Homo sapiens: one gene and its partner. The protein of the gene in region 2 purifies or fractionates together with the protein of the main gene of each other region. This does not show direct contact. Each region holds a gene or a part of one and is shown on either strand. Other genes may lie near its edges.

Region 1 (3,759 bases), on a different chromosome or scaffold from region 2:
GGAGTCTTGCTCTGTCGCCCCAGGCTGGAGTACAGTGGCACAATCACGGCTCACTGCAACCTCCACCTCCCGGGTCCAAGTGATTCTCCTGCCTCAGCCTCCTGAGTAGCTGGGATTACAGGCGCCCACCACCATGCCCGGCTAATTTTTGTATTTTTAGCAGAGACAGGTTTTCACCAAGTTGGCCAGGCTGGTCTTGAACTCCTGACCTCAGGTGATCCACCCGCCTCGGCCTCCCAAAGTGCTAGGATTACAGGTGTGAGCCACTGCGCCCGGCCAAGCTGATTTTTTTTTTAAGTGATGAGGTCTCACTATGTTGCCAAGGTTGGTCTGCAACTCCTGCGCTCAAGTGATCCTCCCACCTCGGCCTTCCAAACTGCTGGGATTATGAGCCATTGTGCCCAGCCCCACTTTTTTCTTTATACATTTTTTATTCGCATATGCTTTTGTTTCTTTTGAATTATTTTTAAAAGCACATGTAAAAATGCAATCTATAATATCTTTAAATAACCACTGCATGAATTTTGGCCTCCAACAATCATGAAAAAGGCTTACCTCACTAAAATAGAAAGTTTTAAAGTTTACTAAGGGGCTGTTTGTATAATTCCTTATAAAAACCCTAATTGCAACTACTTTGTTCCTATCTACCTTCCCACATGAACTCTAAACTCCAAGAAGACAGCAATTGGGGCTGCCTTATTCACAGCTCTATTCCCAACACTGAGCACAGGATCTGAGGATGACACTGAAAATTTTCAGTTAAAAAATGCAGGTCCATGCTCAACATCATGAGTCATTAGGGAAATGCAAATCAAAACTATAATGAGGTTCCACTTCATGATCACTAGCATGGCTATAACAAAAAAGACACAACAACAAGTGCTGATGAGGATGTGAAGAAATTGGAACCCTCACATATTGCTGGTAGGAATGTAAAATAGTTCAGCTGCTTTGGAAAACAGTCTGGCAGTTTCTCAAAAAGCTAAACGAAGAGTTATATGACCCTGCAGTTCTCCTAGGTATATACCCAAGAGAAATAAAAACATATGTCCATGTAAAAACTTGTACAAAAACATTCATAGCAGCATTATTCATAATAGCCAAAAAGCAGAAACAATCCAAATGTATATCAGCTGATGAATAAGTAAACAAAATTTGGTATATCTATAAAATGGAATAATATTCAGACATAAATAAGTATTGGTTCATGCTACAACATGCGTGAACCTTGAAAATACTATATTAAGTGAAAGAATCCAATCACAAAGGGCCACATATTGTATGAATCTATTCATATGAAATGTCCAGAATAGGCAAATCCAAAGAGACACAAAGTAGATTAGTGGTTGCCAGAGGCTAGGGGGAGGCAGGAATGGGGAATGATTGCTAATGGGCATAGAGTTTCTTCTTGAGATGATGAAGTATTCTGGAATTAGGCAGTGATAGTTGTAACACCTCATAACTATATTAAAAACCACTGAATTGTACATGTTGAAAGAGTGTATTGCATTCTATATGAATTCTATCTCAACTTTTTTCAAAAACCACAGGCCTTCAACCATACCATCTGTCAGAAATACACTCTTTACAGACACAATGTCTTATTTTCAAATCATTTGAGTGAGCCAATTAATAGACTCCTCAGCAGCTTAGGAATTGTCAAGTTCCTCATCTATAAACAAGGGTTCAATATCACAGAATAAAACGGATCATAAGAAACTACTTATAAACAATTATATATCTACAAATTTGATAACCTTGAAAAAAATGAATAAATTCCTAGAAACATACAGCCTACCCAGACTGAATCAAGAAAAAGTAGAAAATCTGAACAGACTGATAACAAATAAGGAAACTGAATAAATAATTTTAAAAATTGGCCAGGTGCAGTGGCTCACACCTGTAATCCTAGCACTTTGGGAGGCCGAGGCAGGTGGATCACCTGAGGTCAAGAATTTCAGGCCAGCCTGGCCAACACGGTGAAACCCCGTCTCTACTAAAAATACAAAAAATTAGCCGGGTGTTGTGGCACACGCCTGTAATCCCAGCCACTTGGGAGGCTGAGGCAGGAGAATCACTGGAACCCAGGAGGTGGAGGTTGCAGTGAGCTGAGATTGCACCACTGTACTCCAGCCTGGGCGACACAGCAAGACTCCGTTTCAAATAATAATAATAATAATAATAATTTTCCATCAAGAAAAGCCCAGAACCAGATGGCTTCATGGCAGAATTCTAATTTAAAGAAGAACTAATACCAATCCTTCTCAAATTCTTCCATAAAATTGAAGAAGAGGAAACACTTCCAAACTCATTTTATGATACCAGCATTACACTGACACCAAAGCCAGACAAGAATACTACTAGAAGAAAAAAAAATACAGGCCAATATCCCTAATGAACATAGATGCAAACATTCTAACAAAATACTAGCAAAGTGAATTCAACAGCACATTAAAGGGATCATATACCAAAATTAAGTGGGGTTTATCCCTAGGATCAAAGGATGATTCAACATATGCAAACTACAAATGTGATATACCATGTTAGCAGAATGAAGGACAAAACCAAATGTTCACCTCAATATATGCAAAGGCATTGATAAAATTCAACATCTTTTCATGAGAAAAACTCTTGACAAGTTAGGCATTGAAGGAATGTACCTTAACATGAGTCATATATGAAAAGCCCACAGCTAACATTATACTCAATGGGGAAAAATGGAAACCTTTGCCTGTTAGATTCAGAACAAGCCAAGGATGCATACTCTTGCCACTTCTATTCCATGTAATACCGGACATACTAGACAGAGCAATTAGGCAAGAGAAAGAAAGAAACAGCATCCAAGCTGGAAACAAAGACGTTATGTTGTCCCTGACTGTAGATGCCATGTTTTTCTTTGTTTTTTTTTTTTTTTGAGACGGAGTCTTACTCTGTTGCCCAGGCTGGAGTGCAGTAGCACGATCTCGGCTCACTGCAAACTCTGCCTCCTGGGCTCATGCCATTCTCCTGCCTCAGCCTCCTGAGTAGCTGGGAGTACAGGCACCCGCCACCACACCAGGCTAATATATATATATATATACGTGTATATATATATATGTGTGTGTATATATATATATACGTGTATATATATATGTGTGTATATATATATACGTATATATATACATATATATACGTGTGTATATATACACACATATATACGTGTGTGTGTATATATACACATATATACGTGTGTGTGTATATATACGTGTATATATATACGTGTGTGTGTATATATACGTGTATATATATACGTGTGTGTATATATATGTGTGTGTATATCTATATGTGTGTGTATATATATGTGTGTGTATATCTATATACGTGTGTGTGTATATATATACGTGTGTGTACATATATACGTGTGTGTATATATATACGTGTGTGTATATATATATACGTGTGTGTATATATATACGTGTGTGTACATATATATACGTGTGTGTGTATATATATATACGTGTGTGTATATATATATATATACGTGTGTGTATATATATATATTTTTTTTGTTTTGTTTTGTTTTTTTTAGTAGAGACAGGGTTTCACCATGTTAGCCAGGATGGTCTCAATCTCCTGACCTCAGGTGATCCACCCACCTCAGCCTCCCAAAGTGCTGGGATTACAGGCATGAGTTACCACACCCAGCCAGCATTTCTTTATACTAATGACAAACTATCTGAAAAAGATATTAAGAAATTAATCCCAGGCCAGGATTCAATG
Region 2 (3,759 bases):
TCAGAATTTTGTTCAGTGAAACTTTTGACTGAATATAAAGAGGCTGGAGCAGAGAAAGCCTTCTGAATTCAGCACCAGAATCAAATATGAAGAAACTTATTTTTGCAGCATTAAGAGTCCAGGACCCAAACTCCGTTCTGCCACCCTAATTAGCTATAATTACCTTGAACATAGCATTGAGCATTTTTCCACCTTGCAGAGGGGGTGTTTAAAGCTTTTGTATAGAAAAGCAAGTATGCACATTTTCAGTGGACATAATAATAAAATATATAGCAATAAGAATATAAGATACAGAAAACAGAAACTTACGTGCAAAATTACTGGCATCACCAGTGTCTAGATAAAATTTCTGGCCCACATCATTTGTTTTCCCAGGATATCTATCAGCATAGTGACCCATCTGTGGGCAGCCTCCACTTGGACAAGGGAAACACTTGTTCTAGTGAAAACAAACAAATGATGAATGAGGATGCCCTATCTTTTAGTTGTGTACCATATTTCCTACATGTTGTCGCCATTCAAATATTCTAAAGCCAGTTCTGTTCTGATGATAAATGGGGACTTTAATAGTGTCTCAGCAGCAAAGATTAACAATGCATTTCATTATTCACAACAGTAAGTCACCAACTTCACTGTCAAACAACACAATACTATAAAAATCTACAACGAGCCGGGCGTGGTGGCTCACGCTTGTAATCCCAGCACTTTGGGAGGCTGAGGCAGGTGGATCACCAGAGGTCAGGAGTTCGAGACCAGCCTGACCAACATGGTGAAACCCCGTCTCTACTAAAAATGCAAAAATTAGTTGAGCATGGTGGCAGGCGCCTGTAATCCTAGCTACTCTGGAGGCTGAGGCAGGAGAATCGCTTGAATCCAGGAGGCAGAGGTTGCAGTGAGCCGAGGCTGCACTATTGCACTTAAGCCTTGGGCAAGAGAGCAAGACTCCATCTCAAAAAAAAAACAAATCATACAATGAGAGAATATGTGTGTGTGTGTGTGTGTGTGTATCTATCTTCTATTTTTTCTCTTTTGCCTAATTTGCTCCCAAGACATTCATCTACTTACAGCTAGAATTTATTTTAGAAAGATTGCATAAGTTGGCTGTGCATGGTGGCTCACACCTGTAATCCCAGCACTTTGGGAGGCCAAGGCTGGAGGATCACGAGGTCAGGAGATCAAGACCATCCTGGCTAACATGGTGAAACCCCGTCTCTACTAAAAATACAAAAAATTAGCCGGGCATGGTGGCGGGCGCCTGTAGTCCCAGCTACTTGGGAGGCTGAGGCAGGATGGTGTGAACCCAAGAGGTGGAGCTTGCAGTGAGCCAAGACAGCGCCACTGCACTCCAGCCTGGGTGACAGAGCGAGACTCCGTCTCAAAAAAAAAAAAAAAAGAAAGAAAGATTGCATAAGTAGAACAGAGATTATAATCAGCTTCTGATAAACAAAATAGAATTTATTAGGAGGACAATAGGCTCAAAAGTCAGGCTTTTTTCAATTCTTTTTTTTTTTTAAAGGTTTAAAAATGTTAGCCAGGATGGTCTCGATCTTGACTTCCTGATCCACCTGCCTCGGCCTCCCAAAGTGCTGGGATTACAGGCATGAGCCACCGCGCCCGGCTTTTTTCAATTGTTTTAGCTCATGTTTAGCATATCAAGCCCTGAAGGATTCAGATCCCGGAATTTTCTCTATGTGAAGAGAAAATGCCCCAGCTAGCCTAAGGCTTACTGTGAGGCTGATACCTGGAGAAGACATATTCGTATAGGAAAATACCCCTTATTTCTGGACCAAGGACTTCTGGGAAAAAGAGATGGAGAGGGAGGAACCAAGTTGGCAGGACAAGTGTCCCAATTCCCACTGTGAGGGGCAGGGCTACTCTACAGTGAAGGCAAGTGGTGGACTCCTGGCTCAATGGACCATATTATGGGCTTATCACAGTCCCAGGGTTGGCATTCAACAAAATCCAGGTGTTGCCTAAGCCAGCCGGGAAGAAATGGCCAAAGCTCTCTGAGGGCATTGCTAGAGCCAGAAGAATAGACAAGCCCAAGACGTCATCTCTAAATACAGCAGTGTGCCCATCAATAAAACAGGCAAGGCTATTACCCAGAGTCGAAAGGAGCCCAAAAACTTTACACCCATGGACTCCCAATTCATTTCCTCTGCTGAACACACATCGACCACCACCACCAGATCACCTGGCCCCAGCACTCACTTGGAGAGAAGCTTAGAAGGGAGTGCAAAGGTGAAGAAATCTGCAAGACTGAGACATTTTTTCTTATACAAGTGATGAGTATCACTTGAAAGAACTGTTTATATTGTTGAATTAGACTAAGTTTTAACTGAATGAAACCTGAGGCTTTTGTGTTTGCTTCTTTATTTTTTTCCCCCATTACTTATTGTTGGGTATTGGGGAAGAAAATAAAAATAAAGTTAAAATAAATAAAGAAGGGATCTTCTGTCTCACTGCATATGGAAGCTGTAGTGTGAATAATATATGTACTCCCTCTCCCATAATAGCTAACATTAATTGAATGCTATTATATTTTTTTGCTCTGGGCTAAGCAATTAACGTATGTATTCTCATTAAGTCCTCTCACCAAATATGTTAAGTTTGCCATCAGTATTTACATTTATACATGAAGAAACTTCTTGGAGAACTGTTTTGCCCAAAGATATTCAGCTATTTAATGGTGAAACCAAGATTTGCATCCTCTCTCTTAATCACTAAGGTATATATCCTGGGTAATTGTGACTTCAGCTGGCACATTTGTTACTGGAAATTTTCTTATTAAATCCATAGGTTTTAAATTTTTATTTCAAAAATTTATGGTACAAAGCAAAGTCAATTTTATAAAAAAAAAAACCCAGACAATAGATATGTCATATTTGAGATCACATATAAAGAATTCAACCAAGAGGAAGCCACTACAGCACACATTTACCTATGTAACAAACCTGCACGTTCTGCACTAGTATCCTGGAACTTAAAGTAAAATTAAATAAATAATTCAACCAAGATATCAAGAGAATACCAAATAAGATGAAAATTCAAAAAAAAATTTTGGCCATTATGAAATTGCACAGAAATGTCCACATGTCTATAATTATATATTAATAGTTAGAAAGGTCAGCATTTAAGAAAATTTTTCCATGTTCATCAGCATCCTACAGATATTGCTCAGATTTCCATAGACTAATTATTTTTTGTCTGTTTAGGGTTATTTCTAAAACAAGTTTGGACATTTACCCAATGCATACAAAAGTAACACAAATGAAAGTAAACAGGACATTTCCATGTACAAGCTCATTTCTCTAAAGTGCTCTAATTTATCACTATTTAAATACATATAATTAAAGGCATGTATAAGTTCAAAAGTATAAACATTCATTGAATGATGTCATGTATAGGAAAGCACACCAGTCATGAGAAGTGACAGTCACAAAATTCTTTATGCGGAAGGTGGAGTCTACTTACTGCAGTGAAGACGTTGTAAGAGGCACAGGGGAATCCAGCAAAGCCATCAGGGTTGACGATGCTATCAGTGTAATATTTGTAGCTTCTTAAGTGATTACAGGCCGCAAAGTCTCGAGTCCCTTTGAATCAGACACAATTACACATCAAGGACAGATTTTATTTTTCCAAGTTAACGTCATATTCAGAATATAGTGGTTGAATAGATTTCTCTAATTAGTGTGAGCTCATGCAGGTCACAGAACAAAGTCATTTGTAAAGTATATTTATGATTTGTGATGTAATCAC

Evidence for each region. Proteins that work in one complex are often made in the same cells at the same time.
Region 1: the proteins of PNLIP (region 2) and SUMF1 purify together in Homo sapiens (affinity purification with mass spectrometry; 2 studies listed by BioGRID and IntAct, with this or other methods). This does not show direct contact.

The regions. Positions count from the first base shown.
Region 1 is NC_000003.12:4,453,556-4,457,314, forward strand, and holds part of SUMF1 (formylglycine-generating enzyme isoform 1 precursor), read right to left. Parts: intron 1-3,759.
Region 2 is NC_000010.11:116,555,834-116,559,592, reverse strand, and holds part of PNLIP (pancreatic triacylglycerol lipase precursor), read right to left. Parts: intron 3,594-3,759; coding exon 3,475-3,593; intron 440-3,474; coding exon 310-439; intron 1-309. UniProt on the Homo sapiens protein: Plays an important role in fat metabolism.